Homo sapiens: one gene and its partners. The protein of the gene in region 2 purifies or fractionates together with the protein of the main gene of each other region. This does not show direct contact. Each region holds a gene or a part of one and is shown on either strand. Other genes may lie near its edges. The genes, in order: SASS6, ENTHD1, REPS1, AGGF1, TXLNG, TRIOBP and PLEKHH2.

Region 1 (3,500 bases), on a different chromosome or scaffold from region 2:
ATTACCATGTCATGTAATCAAACTGATTAATGAGAGACTGATTGCATTTTAAAAACTTAGTATGTGGCCCGTCGCAGTGGCTCACACCTGTAATCCTGGCACTTTGGGTGGCTGAAGCAGGCAGATCACTTGAGGTCAAGAGTTGGAGACCAGCCTGTTAACACGGCAAAACCTCATCTCTACAAAAAATACAAAAACAAGCCAGGCGTGGTGGCACCCACCTGTAGTCCCAGCTATTTGGGAGGCTGAGGTTGGAGAAATGCGGAACCTGGTAGGCAGAGGCTGCAGTGAGCCAATACTGCACCACTGCACACCAGCCTGGGCAACAGAGACCCTGTCTCAAAAAATAAAATAAAATAAAATAAAAACTTAATATGTGAAGCGATATTAGAATGCTTTGAATGTTTAAAATCAAGGAAATAACATATTCCCTACATTTATTCATACAAAAACGTATTTTCACATCCACGAATTAAATCTGCTTAATATATTCTTTATGTAATAAAACCACAGAAGTATTATCAACAAGTTTATTACACCTATTTTATCCTTGAGTAAAGTAACTTTAAGCCCTGAGAGGGAGAGACCACAGTGTTCCACATCCTATGCTGTATCTTAGAGAATCCAGAATTGGACAGAGGTATATAGGTGAAAGTGCTCATAAACATTAATCAAATAGAGCACAAATGCTTATATAATTCAGAAAATAAAGGGAGAAATTAGTAAAAAATACCTATGCACAAGTACTTCTCAAACTATTCTGCCAGAATTAAATAACAATGGCCTTTCTTTGATGTGCAGGTAGAAAAAAGTAAACTAACAAATAGAATTTGTTCAATTTTAAGTTTTTCTTCTAAGGACTTCTTTTAAACCTTTTCCACACTATTGCTTATCTACTACACAAGTAAAAAGTATAAACAGCAATTGAGTACTGATAGGAAAACTTGGAAACAGTTGATCAAGGCTAGATTCAATTGTTTAGATTTTTTAATGCTGACTTGTAATTTTATATGGGTTTAAAATGTGTCATTTTAGTTAAGTTTCTTGTTGAACATATGATTGGATGCTAAATCTCCGTTTGTACAATAAGGTTAAATGTTACCTCATAACTTGTATCTGTTTTCTGAAAAGGAACAAGAAGCACTGGTTTACACCAGAGAGAGGAAGAATTATTTTCAAAACAAGAGAATACACTGTTGCTATTTTTCTAGTATCTAAAGCAACATATGTGAAACAGATTAGAGTGTTACTCCAATTCCATTTAAGCTTTCCTGAGCTGGGCACAGTGCCTCCCACCTGTAGTGCTGGCTACTTCAGAGGCTGAGGCAGGAGGATAGCTTGAGCCCAGGGGTTCAAGTCCAGTCTGGGCAACACAGCAAGATTAAGCTTTCGTGGTGGGGTGGGGGAGGGGGGGACTCAGTTTCCGAACTTGTAAGATAAGTGGATTCAACTAGAAGGTTTGTGAAAACCTTTTTAGCTCTACATCATTATGTTTGGTTTTCATCTTCTGAAGTTTTCTCTAGTATAAATGCCATAGTGGTATGATACTGCAGTTGGTATTTAACTTTTTATGGTGCTTTACAGTTTATTTTTATTTTAATTATTTATTTATTTATTTATTTTTGAGACAGAGTTTCGCTCTGTCACCCAGTCTGGAGTGCAATGGTGCGATCTTGGCTCACTGCAACCTCCGCCTCCCAGGTTCAAACGATTCTCCTGCCTCAGTCTCCTGAGTAGCTGAGTTTACAGGGGCACAACACCACACCTGGCTAATTTTCGTATTTTTAGTAGAGATGGGGTTTCACCATGTTGGCCAGACTGGTCTCAAACTCCTGACCTCAAGTGATCTGCCCACCTCAGCCTCCCAAAGTGATAGCAGTACAGGCGTGGGCCACTGCACCTAGACGGTGTTTTACGGTTTTAAAAGTCCTGTCATACTTCATATATTTGCAAAAAGTACAAGAAGAATTCACTTATCAAAGTGTTCTTTACATAATCCTGGAAGAGTTATATTACTATGACAATTTACCAATCATATTAATGATATTGTTGCATATATTCCAAATGCCTATATACATTAGATGTTGAAAGAAAAAACGGAAGGCCTGTAAGTTAAACGAATTCCCCATGCTTAGTTAAAAAACATCCCTAGAAATATGCTGTAGAAAAATACAAGCTTTCAGAGGATACGCTAACTAAAATCACAAATCTTATTTTTTCCCTTATAATGGTTAATGTCATAAGAGCAATATAAAACAATAAAAACTCAATAAAATGTTATTTCTCATCTCAATAGATGTCGTACTCAATAGATGTCTAATACTAATGACATTAGATTTAGTTATGAGTTCTTCTAAATAAAAAGTATTCTAAACATCAGGCTTGCTTTAGCACAACTGGATTCTAGGCCATCTCTGACACCCAGTAGCTGTGCTCTTAAACTATCAATCAAACAAATAAAAGGTACTTTAAGCCAGGTATTGTGCCAGGTGCTAGGGATACAAACAGAAATAAACATGGTCCAGGGGCTTGGCACAGTGGCTCACATCTGTAATCCCAGCACTTTGGGAGGCTGAGGTGGGTGGATCACCTGAGGCCAAGAGTTCAAGACCAGCATGGGCAACATAGCAAAATCCTATCTCTACAAAAAATTTATAAAATGAGCCAGGCATGGTGGTGCATGCCTGTAGTTTCATGTACTCTGGAAGCTGAAGCAGGAGAGCTTAAGACCAAGAGTTTGAGATTACAGTAAGCCATGATTATGACACAACACTCTAGCCTGGGCAACAGAGTGACAGCCTCTCTCTAAAAAAAAAAAAATAATAATTTTTGAACATAGGATGACACAAACAAAACAAAACAAAAAAAACCATGGTCTCTGTCCTCAAATTGAGATGAGATTAATGACTTTTTGCTAGATTTGCTTCTGATTGCATTTTAGGGCTCCATGAGAGGGGAGGGAAGGGTTACCAACACTACTGAGTACCTGCCAGGTATTCTACATATATCATCTTATTTAACAATAATCTTGATAAGTAAATATTATTTATTTTACAAAAGAAGAACTTAAGGCCCAAATAATGGTTTAAGGTCACATTACAGAGCCCAAATGAAAACTCAGATCTTTCACCTACACCACACTATCTAATAACTGAATAATGGCAATTCATTTCAACTTAGGCAACTTTGAAGGGTCCTTATAGTGAAAGGATTTAAGACATACCTGAAAGTTATGAAAGAAAAAAGCATTTGAGGCACAAGGAACAGCAGGGGTAATAGTATAGAATGAGTATCAGGTATATTCAGAAGGTAACAAGAATGCTTGTATGACTTTCATATTGGAGAGATAAGCTTAGGAAACAAAACTGAAAAGGCAGATTAGTGTCAAATCATGGGTTCCAAAATTTTGCATAATTTTCCACCAGATGAAGTTCCCTGATCATTACCACTGTCCTCAACTGAATTTCCTTCTTCTCTGACTTTAGTGTACTTATATTACT
Region 2 (3,955 bases):
AGATGTAAACTCTTCTGTGAAACCTGCCCTTAAATACTCAGTGGCAGAATTAGATGATCTCTTCTCTCTTACTATGCCATACATATCTTGTTACAATCTTCTCTGACGGTGCCTGTCACCTCCACTAGCCTGTAAACGTATCCAGCAGAGGGCTGCTTTTTATCTCCGAGTCCTTACTGTCTGGCACAAAGTGGGTGCTCACGGAAAATCAGTTGAATACATCAACAATTACCCGTCAGTGGCACCTGAAGCCATCAGTCACTGGAGCTACCCCATCATTGTCCATCACACACACTGCTCTTCATAGACTACTATTACATTCTCAGTCCTTTGAGGTGGCAATCACGTGCTGGTGGTATTTCTAGTCAGTTGAAATGACAGTAGTAACACACTTTTAAAAATGTATTCATGTGCCATGCTGGTGCGCTGCACCCACTAACTCGTCATCTAGCATTAGGTATATCTCCCAATGCTATCCCTCCCCCCTCCCCCCACCCCACAACAGTCCCCAGAGTGTGATGTTCCCCTTCCTGTGTCCATGTGTTCTCATTGTTCAATTCCCACCTATGAGTGAGAATATGCGGTGTTTGGTTTTTTGTTCTTGCGATAGTTTACTGAGAATGATGATTTCCAATTTCATCCATGTCCTTAAAACTTAAATAATAATAAATAAAAAAAAAGAGATATTATGCTAGAAGTCTGAGTATTTTACTGATTTTCCATTTTAAGAATAAATTATCATGGCAAATTTTAAGTTACATACATTATTTTATTGTCTACTTTTTAAAAACATTATCAGCTTACCTTGGCATTTTTTTTCTTTTTTTAATGTCCGTTTTTACGTTGTGAACATTTAGTAAATTAATTTATACTCATTTTTATTTAATTAAGAAAGCAGCTAAGAATAAATGCTAGTGTCTGATTAAACTATTTCCCAGATCTCAAAAAAAAAAAAAAATTTATTCTTTGAAAGGAGGATTAGGGCAGTGTCACAGCCCGGCAGCCTGTGAAACGAAGACACTTACCTTCATTCCCCTTGGTACCCTCCAGCTCAGGTATCTGCAACCATCTTGCTTGACGCCCTGACAGGAACTGCACCAGGCCAGAAAGTGAGGAAGCGGAAGTGGGGACCGGCCTGGGCCCTTGAGCCTGGCTGGAGTAGGTGGAATATCCTGGGGAGAGGAAGTTTGGTCGTTGGGCAGCGGCCGACTTTCCTCTCAGGTAACAGCCTCTGCTTGGGAGTGGTGGTGGGGCTCAAGGCGGGTCTGGAAACATCGGTTGCCTTCCCTCCTCCCGTTTCTTGCCGGCACCGTCGGAGTCCAGGTGGGGGCGGGAGGGCGGCGAGGCCATTACCATCCGCAGGAGGTGAAATCCCTGTGGCGTGACGTGACGCCATCACGTCCCTCTCTCCTTCTAGAGGCTTTCCTGAGGTCCAGCCTTCCCCTCCACTGCCGGTTCTCCTAGGGTAATTGCTGGTCTGATTCTCTGTGTGGCCGAACGCCCAGCACCTGGCTCATCTGGTACACAGTCGTCATCTGAAGTGGGGGTTGTATGAATGAAGACGAGGATGCCGAGGAAAGGCCCTGCCCACAGAAAGTTGATTCTTGCTCAGCCTCCACCCGCCATTTTCAAAATTCTTTCCAAAGCATCTCGTTTCTTCCTCCCCCACGGCCCTGTCTGGCGATTATTCTTTGTGTTGCGGATGAGGGAACTGAGACTTAGAGAAGTTGTTAAGTCTTAGTTAGGAAATGGCAAAGCAGGACCTCAAATCATGGCTTTGAATCCTAATTAAAGGAGAGAGATGAGGCATGTGAAGGCCCAGGTGTGAGCACATTGTGAGCGTTCAATGAAGAGTAGCTGTTTACTCCAGGGTGTGAGGACTGTGTCTTGTGCACCTGTTTCTCCATTTCCTAGAATGGAGCCTGCCACATGGTAAGCTCTGGAAGATTATTAGTTGAATAAATTAATGAACACACACTTAGGGCTGGAAAAGATTAGATTCTCTGCCTCTGACAGTATTCTTTTCATCAAAACAGTAACACCTCCTAATGGCATGGTAGTCTCTATAACCATTTTCCCGTAGCATTCTTGGCCAGAGCTCATTTCCTTACGAGTCAAACTCATGTCTATAGGCAGAACCTGTACAAACACAAGAGCTGTTCTTTTCTCATAGTTCCACCTTAAATGCATCTTTTCAGAGATAGCTCTGGACACTCAGCCTCTTAGATGCTATTGTCATTATTGTCCCAAGTCTTTGGATAAAGTCAGTTCAGCTCCTCTGTTCCTTATTCTCAATCCTGAAATCCAAAAACTTTTGGAAATCAACTTTTCCTCCAACTCATTTGGTGGTAAAACTTGGCCTGAGGCCATTTGTAGTCTTTATTCCAAATATTTACATGTTTTTATTGCAGACATGTTAATGTGTTTAATTGTTCAGAGCAGCTCCACACCTTACTGTGGGTATCATGTAATATATGGTATAGACATGGCACTACTCTTGAAAATTCCACCCCTACCACCGCACCCAAAAGAGAATTTCCACAAATCATCTGGCCTCAAAGGATTGGGATAAAAGATCGTGGACCAATAGTTTAATGCCAGCTGATAAATCATTTCCTGTTAGAATTCAGATGAAATGGGGGGAAGGAAACAGCATTGTGAAAGTGGGCAGATCTAAAAATAACACTAAAAGACCTTTTCTACGTAATCATTTGTTTTGCTGGGAATTATTTAGGAGAGAAAGCTCCTTAACTGAATGGTAAGTTTTAATGTGAGGTTCATGTTTTATATTTCTCCACAAAGCTATACAAATGGTAGGTACTCAAGAAATATCTGTTGATGATTTGAAAATATTTGCTCAAAACTATAGAATTTTACTTGACAATTATGAGAGCTAGATTTTATTTATTTATTTTTTTAATATCATGCTTTATAGGAGTTTGTGACCATCTGGGCAACCAATAAGAACTCGTGTCTAAAAAAAAAATTTTTTTTGAGGCCAAGCACGGTGGCTCACACCTGTAATCCCAGCACTCTGGGAGGCCGAGGCAGGCGGATCACTTGAGGTCAGGAGTTCAAGACCACCCTGGTCAATATGGTGAAACCCCGTCTCTACTAAAAATACAAAAAATTAGCTGGGCTTGGTGGCTCATGGCTGCAGTCCCAGCTACTTGGGAGGCTGAGGCAGGAGAATTGCTTGAACCTGGGAGGTGGAGGTTGCAATGAGCCAAGATCGTGCCACTTCACTCCAGCCTGGGTGACAGAGCAAGACCCTATCTCAAAAAAAAAAATAAAATTTTTTTTTTAATTAGTTAGGCTTGGTGGTATGCACCTGTAGTCCCAGCTACTTGGGAGGCTGAGGCAGGGGGATTGCTTGAGCCCAGGAGTTTGCAAGCAGCCTGGGCTACATAGTGAGGCTTTATCTCAAAAAAAAAAAAAAAGTGATTATAATTATAAAGCTATAGAATCAGTGCAGGTTTATCCCAAGGCAGAATCATTCAATCATTGTGTTATTTGCACAACACATGTTTCTTGAGTATCTACTGTTGCTAATTAGCTGTTAGGGATAGGATTACAGTGGTAAATAAGACCGTCAAGGTCCCTGCCCCCAAGGAGCTTCCAGTTTGGTGGTGAAGAAAGGCACTGAGCAAATGACAAATAGGTAAGTACAGATTGTTACAAGTGCAATGAAGGAAATTAACCAGGTTCTGGGGAGACCTAAGTAGTTAGTGAGGTCGGTGAAGACCTCTCAGATTTGTGACATGAAATACCTAACTTCTTCCCTCTATTTCTAAATATTATAGTGAGTTGGGTAGCCAGACAACCAAGATTCAAATGTGGAAATTTACCCTCTTGGGCACTAATTTTGTCTCATGTCAATTTTTGTCACATCACTGTAGTTACAATCTCACAGTTATTTGATGCTGTATGTAAACAGCATTTTCATGTAGTCAGG
Region 3 (3,500 bases), on a different chromosome or scaffold from region 2:
TTAATTCAGATGGACTTTAAATTAGGGTGGAGTGAGGGGAATGGAATTATGAGGGCTTCCAGGCAGAGAAAAGTGATCAGAAGTGGAAAGTGTAGGAGCCTTTTCAAGGACTAGTGTTTTCGGGATAACAGAATATAAAATTAGAAAGAGGCCATATTGGGAAAGACTCTGAAGAAGGGCAGCAGATAACGATATTTCAGCAAGCAATGGAGACCCATTGAAAAGTTTTTGACTTTGAGTGGCAGAAAGGGTAAGGAATGACACTCTTTCAGTGGTCTGGATTGGGTGCTAGGTCATGGACATCCAACCAGGGTGACAGCAGTAGAATAGAAAGGGAGAGACTGGATATGTTATTGAAGGACTGCTGGGTAGCCACTATATGAGGTGCTTTGTGGAATAATGTTTAATTGAGGCCAGATTATCAAGGTTGGATGGAGAGCTTTGAACTAATTGTGTAGGTAACAGGGAGTGGTAGATTTAAGAGAAATGACTCATAAAGCAGTGCTTTAGGAGTCGTTTGTCAGGGCCACAGGAATTAGAGGAATAAAACTGTAGACTTAACTTGGGGGCTGATTTTGTATGGCAGATACGAAGTGAGAAACTGGGCCAGTGGTACTCAAACATGGGAATGAAGGTGACAATGGGGAAGAGGCATTTGGCAGTGTCTAGAGACATTTTGATTGTCATAACTAGAGGGGAGAGAGCAGTTCTACTGGCATCTAGTGGGTAGAGGCCAGAAATGTTGCTAAACATCCTGCAGTGCACAGGACAGCCTCCACAAGCATTATGTGCCCAAGATGTCAATAGTGCTGAGACTGAGAAACCCTAACCTGGACTATAGTGGTGGGAGTGGGACAAAAAATCAGATATGGGCCGGGCACAGTGGCTCATGCCTGTAATCCCAGCACTTTGGGAGGCTGAGGCAGGTGGATCACCTGAGGTCAGGAGTTGGAGACCAACCTGGCCAACATGGTGAAACCCTTTCTGTACTAAAAATACAAAATTAGCCGCATGTGGTGGCGCATGCCTGTAATCCCAGCTACTCCAGAGGCTGAGGCAGGAGAATCACTTAGAACCTGGGAGGAGGAGGAGGTTGCAGTGAGCCAAGATCGCGCCACTGCACTCCAGCCTAGATGACAGAGCAAGACGCTGTCTCAAAAAAAAAAAAAAAAAAAGAGAGAGAGAGAGATGGTAGAGATTATGAAGGTAAACGTGATAGGCCTGGGTTATTTGGCAGTGTTTTGGTGAGAATACAGTGGGGCAAGGATTATTCTTTGGACACCACTCACAGTTAGAAAAGGGGCAGGAAGAGGGCTTACTTTTTAAAAGAGACAATGATGAGTTTGGTTTCAGACATTCTTAGATGGCAATTCAGATCTCTTGGAGACAGTGGGAAGTGGGTGGAGATTTGTCCACCCCAACTGCTGGTTCTTACAGCAGTTCAGGTTCAGAGGTTCGGGATTTCTTCCTCTGTTTTGCTCACCTAAGTGTTTAGGGACGGGAGACAGTGTCACATAGACTGGGCATGCACATACATATCAGGACCTTGGTTGGTACAGTAGTTTTCGGTGTTTGTTAGTAAAAGTTAGGAGGAGACTGAGTCATCTGGGGGCATGAGTGTAGAGAACAAATAACACCGAGTCCAGAACCAAACGAGGAAGGAGCTGGCATTTATCGAGTGCCTATTATGTTCCTTTAACCAGGCAAATCATTTTCATGGAAGAACTCATTTGATTCTTGCAACAACCTTGTGAAGTGGGTGTTATTCTTGTTTATTTTTATTTTTATTTTTATTTTTTGAGACAGTCTCTCGCTCTGTTGCCCAGGCTGGAGTGCAGTGGTGCAATCTCGGCTCACTGCAACCTCCACCTCCCAGGCTCAAGCGATTCTTCTGCCTCAGCCTCCTGGGTAGCTGGGACTACAGGCATGCGCCACCACCACACTCGGCTAATTTTTGTATTTTTAGTAGAGTCGGGGTTTCACCATATTGGCCAGGCTGGTCTTGAACTCCTGACCTTGTGATCTGCCCACTTCAGCCTCCCAGAGTGCTGGGATTACAGGCTTATTCTTGTTCACTAAGAACTTGATAGCAGATAAGTTAAATAATTTATTTGTGAATATTCGTATCTCTCCCTTACTATTATTCACGTCCCAGCTCTTACCTTCTCTGGTCATGTGGTTTGGGAGCAGGGTGAGGAATAAAATTCAGTTGGTCTGATTTTGACTTCCCCATAGTTCTTATGAACAGTAGGGATTTTAGAATATCTGATTTTGTGTTACGTATCAACTTACTCCTTTGCGTAGTAAGTAGTTTAATGTATGATGATGTCTTGAAACACAGCCACTTCAGAGAAAGAGGGAGATTCTTGTAGTTGGTGTTCAGGGCACACACAAATACAATTTTTCTTTATTACCACTGTCAGATGTTTTAAGGTGTGTTCATTACAGTTGCTTTTGAATAGCAGAGGAAAATCTATTCTGAGTTTAAGAGTTTGTTTTTGAAGACAGAATGTCAATAGACAAAGTGAAGGAGTGCATGCTTTGTAAAATTATGCTCCATGCCACATAATAGCAAGATGAGGGGGAGAAAAATCTGGCTCATAGGATTTAATCATGAGGAATTTTGCTGTCTGCCGAGCAAGAAAATATTCAGTGTTGTGGCTTAAAAGTCAGCTTTTCCCAAAGTAGTTTATTTTGTTTTTTAAAGATTAGGAAAGATATACTATTTACCACACTAATCAGAATGTTTTCTTAGCTTTTACCAAAAGCTTCTGTTTTGGGAAATGTCTTAAAACTTCATACAGACTTTGAATGCATAATAGATTGATAAAGGGTTCTAGTACTAACTGTTCTTTCATTGAGGTTTGTAAGCAATGTACCCTGTTAATGAAGCTGAAAATCTTTAGATCATTTGTGTAGAGCAATATCTTGTTAGAATATTTGCATAACACATAAATTTAATGGGGAAAAGCAATAACAGTGAAACAAACCATTTTGTTTTTGTCTTGAAACTTGTTTAAATCAATTACAAGATCTGGCATTAGTGATAAGTTTAAAAATAGGAAAGCAGAGCTCATTTCTGTGTTGAAAGTTATAAACTTAATAAGTCTCAGGTTTGTTATTCTGGAGTAGTGGTTTTTAGTTCTGAATCACTAAAATAATTGTAATAAACTACAGAAATAATCTTGCCATAATCACTTACCTATACACAGTTGAAAAAGATACTGTTTGTGAAAGAAGTCACAGTCAATGTGTTTCTGTAGTGTCCTATTTATTTACTTTTAAAATTTCTGTCTTCTTGAGTTTCTTGTGCTAGTTTCAGTCATTTTGTTTGTTTGTTTGTTTGTTTTAATCAATAGCCCAGAGTTAGAGTTTTAGTATATTGGGAATTCGTGCCAAACATTTGATGGAGCGACACAAGAGCATGAGAAGCTGGTATAAAGAGCACTAACTGTGGGAGGCAAGTTCCAGTTCTGGCATCAGCTAACTTTGTAACCCTG
Region 4 (3,500 bases), on a different chromosome or scaffold from region 2:
GTGCGGTGGCTCATGCCTGTAATCTCAGCACTTTGGGAGGCAGAGGCAGGAGGATCAGCTGAGGTCAGGAGTTCGAGACGAGCCTGACCACATGGAGAAGCCCCGTCTCTACTAAGATTACAAAAAAATTAGCCAGACGTGTTGGTGCATGCCTGTAATCCCAGCTACTCGGGAGGCTGAGGCAGGAGAATCACTTGAACCTGGGAGGCGGAGGTTGCGGTGAGCTGAGATCACGCCATTGCATTCCAGCCCGGGCAACAAGAGTGAAACTCTGTCTCAAAAAAAAAAAAAAAAATTGTCCTAGTAAGTAAAAAATTGCTCCACATAACTAAGAAAGTTGAACCTGTATCTATGTCTACCTATAAACTGTGTTTATCTTTTATTATGAACTGTGCATTGACATCAACTTATCAACTGAGGATCTGAATTCTTCTTCCAAACTATATACGAGATATTTTATCTGACCTTAATCTATCTCCTTCAAATTTTAAGAAATGCTTTCTATTTCTAGTGACAGAGTTTATGAAAAAGTCCATGTTTGCTCCATCTAAACTTTCCTAGGTTATCTTAATGGGTATGTTTGAAATGCAGAGTTATTGAATGATTGTCAGTTTCATAAAAAATTTTGTCTTAATTATCATGTTATCACCATTATGTCAATTTTTAAAATTGTAAAGACATTACCTTTTCCTCATTTGTTGCAGAAGAATCTGGATCTTTTCTTTTCTTCTTCAATTTTTTATCTTTACTTTGTTTTGTGCTAGAAGTCGGATAAGGTTGCAAATCTACTCGAGAATGAAACTGATAACGACCACTTTCCACATCACAATAGTAATAAATTCCAGTGGAAGGATCATAATAGAGTTGATTTTCCTTTGAAAGTCAAGAAAAAAATAAATTCTATTCATGTAAGATAAAATAAACTTAACGAAAATGCCAAATACATTCAAATGTGGTAAATATTTCTTTGAACAACTATAGTATTTTCAGAAGACAATGAATTAAAGATAACAATAAAAAATGCTTTAATCTTCCAAAATACTTTACCATTCAATAACTGATCTAATTTTCCTAGTGTGAGAAACAAGTAAATCTAAATATTAAATTTAATCATATAAAATTGTCAATACTTGACCACTTTTAACTTATAAGAAACAGCAATTTCATATGGTTCCACTTAATACATTAAAAAAATTGATAATACTTTTAAAGGCATGAAAACTAAAGCAAGCATAAGAAAAAGCTGACCATATGAGCGCAATTCTAGACTCCTGATTCTTAATGACTGCACAATAATGGTGTGGCAGTATAAACCCCTAAACCCTCCTCTCAATGTCATAAAACAAAGATTTGTCTTTTGATGTTCATAACTTAAAATTAGAGAAGAAAATTTTGAAAATAAAGTTCATGCATACCAAAAAATAACATTCTATAAAATGCAATCAATAAACTGTCTCCACTAATTAATCAGTTCTATAGTAAATAAGACTTACAAGCAACCATGCATAAATGAATTTGGCAAATTACAGATTTAAAAACCAGAAAGATAAAATTAGGTAATCACCTATATTTATGATATACTGGCCAGTACTCTAAAACCAAATTTAATTGAACAGTCTATATTTTATTTACATCCTAAATCCATGCAGACCAGACCCGGAAACATCTTTAATGTACTGAGATTGAGCAACTAAAACTTCCTGAAAAAGAATAATTTATTTTTCTAACTATTGACACTTGCAATTTATTGTCTTTAATCCATGCATTTTGCAGATCTCTTACAAAAAATATTTAGATTTCTCACCATCTTTCTCTTAACTAAGAAACTGAGTGGAGGCTTTCCAATCTTTATTTCTAGTAATAATGGAACTTTTATAATTCAAACCTTTTAAATCTGTTTATCAGTCCAAAATATAGACATTTTCAAAATATAAAAAAAATTTATTAAAATATTAGCACAATGAAAATGGCAACACAATGAAGTTCCTAATTTACTCAGAAATATAACCTGCAGAACGTACTAACCATTTACAAAACAACTGATGTCAAGAGAAAAGATACAGAAAGACAGGCAGAAGATTGACAAAGACTAATGTCTACTTGAAACTATTGTTTTCCTAGAAACTAAATAACTACTCCCTTTGGATAAGTGTTTAAACATTAATTTCCTGGTTATTAATTAGCATTGTCAATTAGCAACCCCCATGAAAGAAAACCCTCTCTTTACAAAGGACTTACAGTTTACCATATGCAGATTGACAAACTAATGACACCTCTTATGTTAATTGAGATATTTAGTATTATCTTATGTTCTCTAGATAACAATAGTTCCAGTAACAGGAATGATGAACGTCAACTCCACTTTTGTGTACCACATTCTATAATTCCTCAGAAAACCAGATTACATTACTAGATTCTTGAGTTTGAGGTATGTGACTGAGTTCTATCATTGTCATCAAATCTTCAACGAAATATAATTATTAGACTTCAACAGCTATAACACTGTATTATAAATCAAGAACTTTATTTTCTGGTTCTATCCTAGTCAGTGGTCCATTATATTTTAGATCCCATATTAATTCCCTAGTTCTCATTGCTAACAGATTGATTTTTGTTTGCTTGTTTTTTGAGACAGGGTCTCACTCTGTCACCTAGTCTGGAGGGCAGTGGTGCAATCATGGCTCACTGCAGCCTCCATCTTCCCAGCTCAAGCGACGCTCCCACATCAGCCTCCTGAGTAGCTGGGACTAGAGGGTGAGCCACTACATCCAGCTGACTTTTAAAATTTTTTATAGAAAGAGTCTCACTGTGTTGCCCAGGCTGGTCTTGCACTCGACTCAAGCAATCCACCTGCCTCAGCCTCCTAAAGTGCTAGGATTACAAGGAGTGAGCCACCATGCCTAGCCAACAGACTGAATGTTTAAAGTGAAATAGTTAAAAGGCACAGGATATAAAACACTGGCTAATAATAAACATACTACTAAGAATTCAAGAAAGAAGTCTCCTTATGTGGCCTAAAATGAATTCATAAAGTATTTGATATAATTTTTAAAATTCTCATTCCAAGCCTAAAATTAACCTCACTTCTCTATTAATTCTATGAAAAAAATACTGGTTTAGGTTCTAAAATATTTACGATGTAGTTAACTATCTGCTTTTATTAACAAAAGCTCCAGTATTTTTGTCTGTTATTTTTATACATAAAGACTTCTCCAAAACATTGTCTATAATAATCACAATAAAATTTATTTTAACCTTAACCTTATTTTAAAAACTTAGAAGTGTAGCATCATAAGCTATTTTAGAATTCTTCTGTCAAATAGTTTTGAGTCAAATATAATTTTAAATGCAGCTTTTTGCTTTCTTACTTCGGCTTAGGGTTTAATATTTGATATCAGGCACTGAGTATGTATCATACAGTATTAAAAGGTCTGAGATGTAATTCGAGACCAGCCTGGCCGACATGGCGAAACCCTGCCTCTACTAAAAATACAAAAAAT
Region 5 (3,500 bases), on a different chromosome or scaffold from region 2:
ATTGTTTCATGCCATGCTACACTGCCACCCTTCTCTTCTCTCCTCTTCCAGTTGTGACAAAAAAGTAAGCAAATTTAGGGCAGCAGAAAATAATCCATCTTTTTCTTTTTTAAAAAAAAATCCTTTAGACAGATTTAATTTTCACAACCCTTTATTATCCAGGTTTTATAGAAGAAATGTATAAGCCTGGAGACATTAATAAGTTGCCTAACATTCTTTAATTAGTACAGATAATCAGTAAGGGGTGAGGTGGGATTTGAACCCAGCAGCCTGAATCTCTGGCTTTCTTGACTTCCGTATTGGCCTGCTATCCCCTGGGGTCCTGAATTTTGCCAGCTTTCTGACTTCAGACACTGATCACAGATCTTCTCCCTGCTTTCAACCCAACAACTCACAAGCAACATGGGCTCCTCAACTTCCAGCTATGATCTTGTGCTTTTTGAAGGATGATGCCCTTCAACTGGATACCTCCTGCCCCTGAATTTTCCTGGGCCCACTGGGAACACTGCCCAAGTATTCCAGCCTTAACCCTTTGGAAAATAAACCAGCTCCAGTTCTAGCTGAAACCTACTCCAATGTTGAAGGCCAGGAGTGACTCAGTGCTAAAGCCAGGCATGTCCCGAATTGCTGTTTGCTGGGTGAATGTCTGTCTAGATCATTTCCTACCTGGCAAAAAACCCGCTGAAATCCAAATATTTTAACAATCAATTTATTGTGCTTTGGGGTTTTGATTTTTTTATTTTCATTATCATTTTTTTAGATGGACTATTATTCTGTTGCACAATCTCGGCTCACTGCAGCCTCCACCTCCCGGGTTCAAGCGATTCTCCTGCCTCAGCCTCCCGAGTAGCTAGGACTACAGGCACCTGCCACCACGCCCAGCTAATTTTTGTATTTTTAGTAGAGACAGGGTTTCCCTATGTTGGCCAGACTGGTCTCAAACTCATGACCTCAATTGATCCACCTGCCTTGGCCTCCCAAAGTGCTGGGATTACAAGCATAAGCCACCATGCCCGGCCGGGTTTTGCTTTTTTGAGATGGAGTTTCACTCTAGTTGCCCAGGCTGGAGTGCAATGGATCGCGCCATTGCACTCCAGCCTAGGCAACAAGAGTTAAAGCGATTCTCCTGCCTCAGCCTCCCAAGTAGCTGGGATTATAGGCATGCGCCACCACACCCAGCTAATTTTGTATTTTTAGTAGAAATGGGGTTTCTCCATGTTGGTCAGGCTGGTCTCGAACTCCCGACCTCAGGTGATCCGCCCACCTCGGCCTCCCAAAGTGCTGAGAATACAGGCATGAGCCACCGTGCCCAGCAGGTTTTTGTTTTTTTAAATGATGCTTTAGGAGTCGATACCATCAAGTTTTACACCCACAGGCTACTATACTGAAACAGTCATCAGAATCTAAAACTCAGTAAACAGCACTCAGGGTTCTTTGTAAGAAGAACTGCTGCAGTTTTGGGTATGGAACAAATCAGTCTGTTTCAAGGTTAAATCAACATGAACAGATAAGATGGCAGCCTTACTGACCTTTCAATAAAGCTTTTACTGAAAAAGAAAATGATGCTGAGTCACAATTTGAAGAGCAAGAGTGACATCTTGTGGCCTACCAAAACATATCACGCATCCTTACAGCCACATTTACAGATATTAAAAACACCTTTACTGAAATTCTTGCAGGAAAAAAAATCATTGTTTTTGCATAATTTTGTAAAGCAAAATTACTGCGAACTGTACACGGCTGCCCAGTTTAAGAGGCTGCAGGTCCGGCACATACTAGCTGTAATTTCACCAGGGTGCAGAGCTCCTGCCTTTCCTGACCCAGGGTTAGCGCAATCCTGAATCCGGCGTTCATTATTCCTTCGCTTTCCTTTCTATATAATTTCATTTCATCTGTGTGCACTTCTCTAAAAAAAAAATCCTTTTGGTTTTAGCTGTTTTGACTTTATTGTAGCTAGTGCAAATGAGGAATTGAAATTTTCATTTAATTTACACTAATTTAATAAGCCACATGTGGCTGATGGCTACTGTCTTGGACAGCGCAACTCGATTACATTGCTAGGACTCATCCACATTGTTGGCGTGTAGCTGCAGATCAGGACTTAGCAGATTTTTTCTGTAAAGGGCCAGCAAGTAAATATTTTAGGCACTGCAGGCCACATATGGTCTCTGTCACGTGTTCTTTATTTTTAAACATCTTAAAAATTAAAACCATTCTTGTGGGCAGTGTAAAAACAGACTTCGGATGCATTTGGCCCACAGGCTGTATAATATTCCACTTTTTAAAAACACAGCACACACACAAACATACCACACAAAGTGAGAACCTGTCTCTAAAAAATAAACAGTGAGCCATGATTGCGCCACTGCACTCCAGCCTGGGTGGTAGAGTGAGACCCTGTCTGAAAAATAAACAAACAAGTAGATAAAAAATAAAAACACACCACACATACACACAAAACTCTTTATTAATCCATCTTCTTGCATCAACAGGCATCTGGGCTGTCTCTAGGTTTTGTTATTACTCACAGTGGTATGAACATTCTCATGTGTTTCCTGGTATACACGTGTCAGGAATTTCTCCTCTGTGCAAACATCAGAAATGAGGTTGCTGGGCAATGATTTCTAAATGTTTGATTTCACATGACAATGGTGAATTGATATTCCCAACAGCAATATATAAGAGACCACGTAGATCCACATCCTCTCCAAAATGATCAGATTTCTTCATTTATGCCACTACAATAGACGTAAAATGGCATCTCACTGTGGTCCTAATTTGCATTTCCCTAATCACTTATCAGGTGGAACATCTCTTTGAATGTTTATGGACCTTTATGTTAAGGTATCTTCGTATCTTTGTTTTTCCACTTCTATGAAATGTCCCTTTCATGTCTCTCATCCAGCTTTCCATAGGGCTATTTGTCCTTTTCACATTAGTGTTCTTTAGATATTCTTGATACTAAATCGCCTGCTGGTTATATTTGTTGGAAATATGTTCTCCCCAGTTTGTAATGTCGTCTCACTTTTTTTTTTTTTCTGAGATGAAGTCTCACTCTGCTGCCCAGGCTGGAATGCAGTGGTGCGATCTTGGCTCACTGCAACTTCCGCCTCCCCAGTTCAAGCGATTCTCCTGCCTCAACCTCCTGAGTAGCTGGAACTACAGGCGCGCAAACACCATGCCCGGCTAATTTTTTTTTTTTTATTTTTTTAGTAGAGACGGGCTTTCACCATATTGGACAGGCTGGTCTTGAATTCCTGACCTCGTGATCCGCCTGCCTCAGGCTCCCAAAGTGCTGGGATTACAGGTGTGAGCCACCGCGCTTGGCCATCTTCTCACTTTTTTTCAGGGCATCTTTTGACGAAAACAAAGTTCTTAATTTCAATAAAGCAAATTTGTACAATCTTTCCTCTGACAGTGCTTTTTGTGCTATAAGAAATATTTCCTAAACTCAAGGTTTGAAAAATATTTATCTATTGATAAATCAAAATAATATCTAC
Region 6 (3,500 bases), 2.1 Mb from region 2:
GTTGAAAAAGCAAAAATAAGAACACTTTGGCCAGGTGCAGCGGCTCACACCTGTAATCTCAGAATTTTGGGAGGCTGAGGCAGGTGTATTGCTTGAGCCCAGGAGTTCGAGACCAGCCTGGGAAATCACGGCGAAACCCCACCTATACAAAAAGTGCAAAAATTATCTGGGCATGGTGGTGAGGGCCTGTGGTCCCAGCTACTCAGAAGGCTGAGGTGGGAGGATCCCTTGAGCCTAGGAGGTTGAGGCTGCAGTGAGCCGTGATTGCACCACTGCACTCCAGCCTGGGTGTCAGAGTAAGACCTTTCTCAAAGCAACCAAAACCAACCAACCAACCAACCAACCAACCAACCAACCAACCAACCAACCACTTTGAGCCCTGCTAAGTCAAGAAGGAGTGTTAAGACTAACTGGGATAGAAGCCCGGCCTCAGCGTGCGATGTGTGTGTGTGAAGCTCAGTGGAGATTCACTGTGGGGGTCAGGGATGTGCACGCTGCATTTGCCTCCAGCCCCAAGAAGGGGGGTGCACTGAGTAGGCTGTGGCTCTGCACTGTGCCGCCCAGCTCTGGAGGAACAGGCTTAAGCTGATGAAGCAGCCTGTGGCCCGGGTCTGATGGGATCTCTGCAACAACCCCGTGTTGCTGGTTTCATTGTCCTTTTTACAGAACGGGAATTGGAGGCCAGAAGAAGGAAGTGGCCTGGCTGGGGTGGTCCAGGGAGTCCCGGGTGTGGGAGAGCCTCAGCCCCTGCCCACCCTGCAGGGCACACGCCTCGGCATCCACCTCTACTCAGCCAGGCTGTTGCGCATCGACTCCTTCTCCTGGAGGGCGGCCATGGCAAGACGCAGGTGCTCCTTCAGCTGCTCGATCTCCCGCTCAGACCGTGTCTTGATGTGGCTCAGCTCCACATAGACGTCCTGGTACTTTCCCGAGGTGAAGCGCTTGTCCTGGGGGGCAGGAGGCAGGTATGAGGGCATGAAGTCTCTCCCTCCAGCCCTGCCAACCGGGCACATGGGCAGCACCAGCAGCCAGACCTCCCCGCAGATACCTCGCTTCATCCCTCCAGGTGGCTCCCCAAGATGGCCGTGGGTTCTGGGCTTACCCCTCCCACCTCCCTGGTACCACCCAGGGACACAGGCGTCATTGTCATCCTCATCCTGTTTCGGGGGAGAAGATTTTGACCAAGACCGCAGGGCAGTGAGTGGCTGGGATGAGAACCAGGTCAGCCTGGCTGGGTGCTCGGGCCCTTCCTGTGAGTTCACGCCACCTGTTCTTCAAGTGCGGTAAACACGGTCTGGCTCACGTGCACTTACAGAGCCACCAACATGTCCACTTCCTGCCCCAAACTGACAGAGCGCACCAGGCAGTGACATAGCAGCCAAGGGTGGGCCAGGCGGGCTGCAGACTCAGACCTGGGCTGAACCCTGACCCACCCAACTCCTAGCAACGTGGTTATTCTCACTGGAGTGCAAGCTCCCCACAGCAGAGATTTGGGGTTATTTTGTTCACATCTGTCTTCCCAGCACCTAGCACAGTGCCCAGGATATAGTAGGTGCTCAATAATAATCAATAAATTAAATAATGCTAAATAAACAGAAGCCAAGTACAGCCTTGGGGAAGTCACTTCCCCTTTCTTAGTCTCAGTTTCCCTGTCAGTGAATGGGGATGATGACACCTACATGGGAGAAGCACAGGAGAGCCTGAGGAAGGATGAAGCGAGTGGAGGGCTTGGCACAGAGCAGGTGCTCACAGGATGGCATCCAGATGGCTCCAGAGTCCCCGACGGCCCCCAGCCCAGCGGAAGGACCTACCTTCTGCATCATCTGGAGCTCGTCCCGGAGGCACTGCACCTCCTTCTTTAGGTACTGGAGTTCGTTTTCTTTTACGCGAAGCAGCACCTGGGGATATAGGTGCTGGACTGACCCAGGGCCAGAAGCCAGAGCTACCCTGGCCCATAGTGCCCTGCAGCCCGGGTTCTCTCTGCCTCAGGCCCCTAGAATGCAGCCCCTATCTGCACAAAAACCCTCTACATCCTGGAGGCGGACTCCTCCAGGAAGCCCTCTCCGATTCCCCTGCTTTGCCTTCCCTTACTCTCACCCCTGTCCAGCCCGTGTGAGTGGATATCTCACGGTCAAGTCTGCTGCAGCCCTCATGCAGCACCAGGCTCTCACCTCGGGAGTGAGATGGATGAAAAGAAGCCCTACATAAACCTGAGCAGGCTGAACCACTCCACAAGGCACCTCATTAACCCCTCCCCAACCCCGAGGGCTAGGTGCTGCTGACTTGACCAAGGAGGAAACAAGTTCAGCCAGGACTGGGGAGGCTTAAAAGCTCAGACTGGAGCCAGACTGCCTGGTTCAAATCCCAGTCCAGCTATAAAAGCTTTGGTAAGGTACTTGACCTTCCTGTGCCTCAGTTTCCTCATCTGTAAATGGGGACAGTCATAGTAGCTAATGTATGGAGCTGTCAGGAAGATTAGATGAGTTAACAGACAAAAAGGGCTTCCAGAATTTCTAGGTACAGAGTGAGCCTCACCTAAGTGTTTGTTGAAGAAATAAAATATTGGGGCCAGGAGCGGTGGCTCACGCCTGTAATCCCAGCACTTTGGGAGGCAGAGGCGGGCGGATCACGAGGTCAGGAGATTGGGACCATCCCGGCTAACATGGTGAAACCCCGTCTCTACTAAAAATACAAAAAATTAGCCAGGTGTGGTGGCGGGTGCCTGTAGTCCCAGCTACTCGGGAGGCTGAGGCAGGAGAATGGCATGAACCCGAGAGGCGGAGCTTGCAGTGAGCCGAGATGGTGCCACTGCACTCCAGCCTGGGTGACAGAGTGACTCCGTCTCAAAAAAAAAAAGAGAAATAAAATATCGGCTGGGCACGGTGGCTCACGCCTGTAATCCCAACACTTTGAGAGGCCGAAGTGGGCGGATCACCTGAGGTTGGGAGTTCGAGAAGAGCCTGACCAACATGGAAAAACCCTGTCTCTACTAAAAATACAAAATTATCCAGGCGAGGTGGCACATGCCTGTAATCCTAGCTACTTGGGAGGCTGAGGCAGGATAATCGCTTTTTTTTTTTAATATTTTTTTTTTTTTTGAGACGGAGTCTCGCTCTGTCACCCAGGCTGGAGTGCAGTGGCACGATCTCGGCTCACTGCACGCTCCGCCTCCCAGGTTCATGCCATTCTCCTGCCTCAGCCTCCGGAGTGGCTGGGACTACAGGCACCCGCCACCGCGCCCGCCACCACGCCCGGGTAATTTTTTTGTATTTTTAGTAGAGACGGGGTTTCACTGTGTTAGCCAGGATGGTCTTGATCTCCTACCTCGTGATCTGCCCGCCTCGGCCTCCCAAAGTGCTGGGATTACAGGCGTGAGCCACCGCGCCCGGCCAGGAGAATCGTTTTAACCTGGGAGGCGGAGGTTGTGGTGAGCCGAGATCGCGCCACTGCACTGTAGCCTGGGCAACAACAGCAAAACTCTGTCTCAAAAAAAAAAAAAA
Region 7 (3,500 bases), on a different chromosome or scaffold from region 2:
GATTTAAAAGTTTATATATTTAAAGCACTTAGAAGATTTCTTGGCATAGTAAGCAACAGTTTCCTAATCTATAAAATGAGCACAATAAAATGTATTACTTCACAAGTTGTTATAAGAATTAAATAAATCATACCATACCTATACAGAGCTTATCCTATACATAATAAATCAATAAATATTAGATATTTTCATTAAAACATGGATGGAGACCAAAAGAAATTTTTAAACCTGAGAAAAATATTCATAATGGAATATAACAGAAAATATTGTGAAAATCCTTATTCATATTTTTGTGTTGAATATATTTATTGGGAAGCCATGAGTAACTTGGCACATTTATCTACTTTCCAATGTGTAAAACACATCAGAATAATTCCATCTCTTAGATCTGCCAAAGAATTTATGTCACAGATACGAAATACAGACCAAAAAAAAAAAAAGAAGAAGAAAATTAAAGAAAAAGAAACCACAACTAGAACAGCAATTCCGAAATAACATTCCTATCAATGTTCATTCACTGACAAAGAAAACATTTAATCTGATAGCATAAAAATTAATAATAAAAAAGCTATTTTACTTATAGAGAAATTACTGGAGATAACAACACTTTTATTATTTTTAAAATGGGCACTCATTGAGAAACTTGCTGCAACATGCTTTCTAAAGAACAGAACAAATGTTGCCATAAAATTTAGAATTTAAAGGTCAACTAATTGCAACCCAAATAAGCTAATATCTTCTATTTAGTCCATAAGGAAGCCAAACGAGTACAGAAGTCAAGAAAAGCAGGAAAATTTTGAGAGGGATCCTGTGGTCAACAGTGTCAACTGCTGAGAGGCTTAGGCAACAAATGGGAAGTGTCCATGAGGTTTAGTAATAAGGACATAATTGGTGGATCCTGACAAAAATCACTGTATGGGGCAGTTGGGGTTGTTGGAAAATACCGGATAAATCATAGTACAACATGGAAAATGATTTTCATTGACAGAAGAGCAAAAGATAAAAGATGAGTCACTAAGTTACGTTAGAAAAAACTTCTCCAACTTGGAGATACTCAAACTGGGATTTTATAAGCTATAATTTTAATAATTTTGATGTAATATCAATAAATAAAGCACATTGAAGTTCAGGATTCATTGACTGATTGATTACTGAGTCATCCTTGACCCAAAGTGAGTAAGGATAACTTTAGTCTTCTACCTAAAAGATGTTAAAGCCCAAAAGTTTGAGATGATATATATGCAAGTTTAGACTTAATGATGTTTTGCTGAATGTTATTATAATAATTCTGTACTAAGAGATTCTTGGCTAGCAATGAAAGGAAGATTTAATACCTTTTTTGGAGATATGATACATGTACCAATCTCCATCCCAAAAGGATTATGCAGATTAGTGTTTCAGAAACCACCTGTAAGTTCTTCTGATCAGTTCTGAATAACCACTAATATCATTCATCCATTCATCCAGACAGTGCTTTCCAATAGAAATATAATATGAGCCACAGGTGTGATTTTAAATTTTCTAATACACACGTTTAAAAAGTAAAAAGAAGTGGGTAAAATTAATTTTAATATTGCCTATTTAACCCAATATCCACAATATCATTTCAACATATAATCAATATAAAAATTATTGCTGAGATATTTTACATTCTTTCATGCTAAAACTTTGAAATCCTGTATTTATTCTACTTTTACAACACACCTCAATTTGAACTAGCCTTATCTGAAGTGTTGAACATCCACATGTGGCTAGTGGCTACTGCATTGGGACAGCAGAGGTCTAGAATTCAAGTTCCCTGGAAATAGGAATATGGGTTGTCTTGTTCATATATGTAACTGTAGTATTAAGAACGGTGTCTAACACATAATTAGCCCTCAAAGAATATTTGTTGAATGAATAAATGAACAAATCTATTGGTTTTATACACATACTTGCAAAAAATTCCTGTAATATAAATGAAATTCTAATTACATGATTAGAAAAGCATATAATTATTTTAAACTCAATTCTAGCCCAGGCAAGAATTTAGCAATATATACTTAGTCAACACAGATTCCTAAGTAGATACATCTTTCAAATACGGTATAAACACATTTTACTATCAATAGATAATTTTTTTCTATAATCCCTTCAATATGATTTTTGTAAACATTTAGTAGATCAAAGCTGTCATACTCCTCTAATAAAATCAAATAAATTATAGCTTTCTCTCTGGAATGAATGAACTCTACATTCACCAAACATACACGGTTCTCACATATGCCACTAGCATTTGCAAATAAATATTTTTTGTCTTAAAGTCCAATCTACCCTAACACTGGCAAAAGAATATGCCAAATATAGCTTCAAATACTTGACAAAAATTAAATCAAACCCCCAAAGTACTGAGATTATTTAATATAAATGAAGCAGACCCTAAATAGCTGACATTTAATAACAAAGCTTAGGGAGAAAGCTTACCTTCTCTGCTAAAAGCTCTCGTATCTTGCTTGCTTGAACTCTAAATTTCATGAGTTGGGACTCCAGAGCTACACATCGTTCCTTCCAATCTACTGGTCCCTCTGGCTCAGAAAGCTCTGCCATATTCTAAAAAAATTAAATAAATAAACAAAAAATTAAAAAGTAAAACATTCAAATGCTACAACACAATTAATATTCAGGATAATTTGTTAAATTACCCAATGTACACATTATAATCACTGTCTAGTGAGATCCATGTACAAATTTTAAATTCTAAGACAAATTCCAGAACTGGTGAGAACTTATGGAAAGAACTTAATGGGAAATAGGAGACTAAGGCTGGATGGAGCCCAACTGTGCTACTTAACCTTTCTATGTCTCAGTTTAGCCAATCCAGAAAAGGGGGCATGTTGACAACAAACCATTATTCCTTGTGGGTATGTAGTGAGGGACAAATGAAATACTGCTATTTCTAGTAGAACAGACAGTATAACAACACCACACAAACACAGAGTGTTATTATTTTAGCTGTGCCCAACAGATAAGATTGTTTGAATCTATCAGCTCATAATTTTACCATATTCTGAAATTTAAGGAAGTATTACAGTTTGATTCAATTGCTACAATTCACGGTTTGGATTTTTACTATAATGATTCCTTATCATCACTCTCAATTTGGCCAGGTCCAGGTTAAGTCTTTCAAGCCAGAGGTCCTTTGGCGTATTTAAGGGTAAGTTGTTGTGATCCTGACAAGTTTGCATAATTTTTATTTGGTGTAAGAGAAGGCACATATACATGCAATTTGGAGTTAGCCATATGAAGTAAATCTGGAATTAGTGTTTTCCATATTAACTTTCCTTTGGGAGGATATTAATTGCAGGGAGAAGCACTGTAAGGGGGAGGACAAGATGCAAGGGAATTGGTTTTGAAATTTTGAAGTGTTACTTGATTTTGGAAGCATGATGGTTTCTGGCTCTGAGATACATAAAAGTAGTTTTAAATGTTTGGTAATATTTTATCAGGCTATTTTTAATAAG

The links.
Region 1: the proteins of ENTHD1 (region 2) and SASS6 purify together in Homo sapiens (affinity purification with mass spectrometry; one large-scale study listed by BioGRID and IntAct). This does not show direct contact.
Region 3: the proteins of ENTHD1 (region 2) and REPS1 purify together in Homo sapiens (affinity purification with mass spectrometry; one large-scale study listed by BioGRID and IntAct). This does not show direct contact.
Region 4: the proteins of ENTHD1 (region 2) and AGGF1 purify together in Homo sapiens (affinity purification with mass spectrometry; one large-scale study listed by BioGRID and IntAct). This does not show direct contact.
Region 5: the proteins of ENTHD1 (region 2) and TXLNG purify together in Homo sapiens (affinity purification with mass spectrometry; one large-scale study listed by BioGRID and IntAct). This does not show direct contact.
Region 6: the proteins of ENTHD1 (region 2) and TRIOBP purify together in Homo sapiens (affinity purification with mass spectrometry; one large-scale study listed by BioGRID and IntAct). This does not show direct contact.
Region 7: the proteins of ENTHD1 (region 2) and PLEKHH2 purify together in Homo sapiens (affinity purification with mass spectrometry; one large-scale study listed by BioGRID and IntAct). This does not show direct contact.

Annotation. Positions count from the first base shown.
Region 1 is NC_000001.11:100,126,431-100,129,930, forward strand, and holds part of SASS6 (spindle assembly abnormal protein 6 homolog), read right to left. Parts: intron 334-3,500; exon of another isoform or gene 222-333; intron 1-221.
Region 2 is NC_000022.11:39,890,961-39,894,915, reverse strand, and holds the start of ENTHD1 (ENTH domain-containing protein 1), read left to right. Parts: upstream 1-1,155; 5' UTR 1,156-1,221; exon of another isoform or gene 1,222-1,932; intron 1,933-3,955.
Region 3 is NC_000006.12:138,981,754-138,985,253, reverse strand, and holds part of REPS1 (ralBP1-associated Eps domain-containing protein 1), read left to right. Parts: intron 1-3,500. UniProt on the Homo sapiens protein: May coordinate the cellular actions of activated EGF receptors and Ral-GTPases.
Region 4 is NC_000005.10:77,036,904-77,040,403, reverse strand, and holds part of AGGF1 (angiogenic factor with G patch and FHA domains 1), read right to left. Parts: intron 874-3,500; coding exon 685-873; intron 1-684. UniProt on the Homo sapiens protein: Promotes angiogenesis and the proliferation of endothelial cells. Able to bind to endothelial cells and promote cell proliferation, suggesting that it may act in an autocrine fashion.
Region 5 is NC_000023.11:16,824,466-16,827,965, reverse strand, and holds part of TXLNG (gamma-taxilin), read right to left. Parts: intron 1-3,500. UniProt on the Homo sapiens protein: May be involved in intracellular vesicle traffic. Inhibits ATF4-mediated transcription, possibly by dimerizing with ATF4 to form inactive dimers that cannot bind DNA. May be involved in regulating bone mass density through an ATF4-dependent pathway.
Region 6 is NC_000022.11:37,770,048-37,773,547, reverse strand, and holds part of TRIOBP (TRIO and F-actin-binding protein), read right to left. Parts: intron 1,899-3,500; coding exon 1,812-1,898; intron 948-1,811; coding exon 786-947; 3' UTR 784-785; intron 1-783.
Region 7 is NC_000002.12:43,643,760-43,647,259, reverse strand, and holds part of PLEKHH2 (pleckstrin homology domain-containing family H member 2), read right to left. Parts: intron 2,590-3,500; 5' UTR 2,587-2,589; coding exon 2,464-2,586; intron 1-2,463. UniProt on the Homo sapiens protein: In the kidney glomerulus may play a role in linking podocyte foot processes to the glomerular basement membrane. May be involved in stabilization of F-actin by attenuating its depolymerization. Can recruit TGFB1I1 from focal adhesions to podocyte lamellipodia.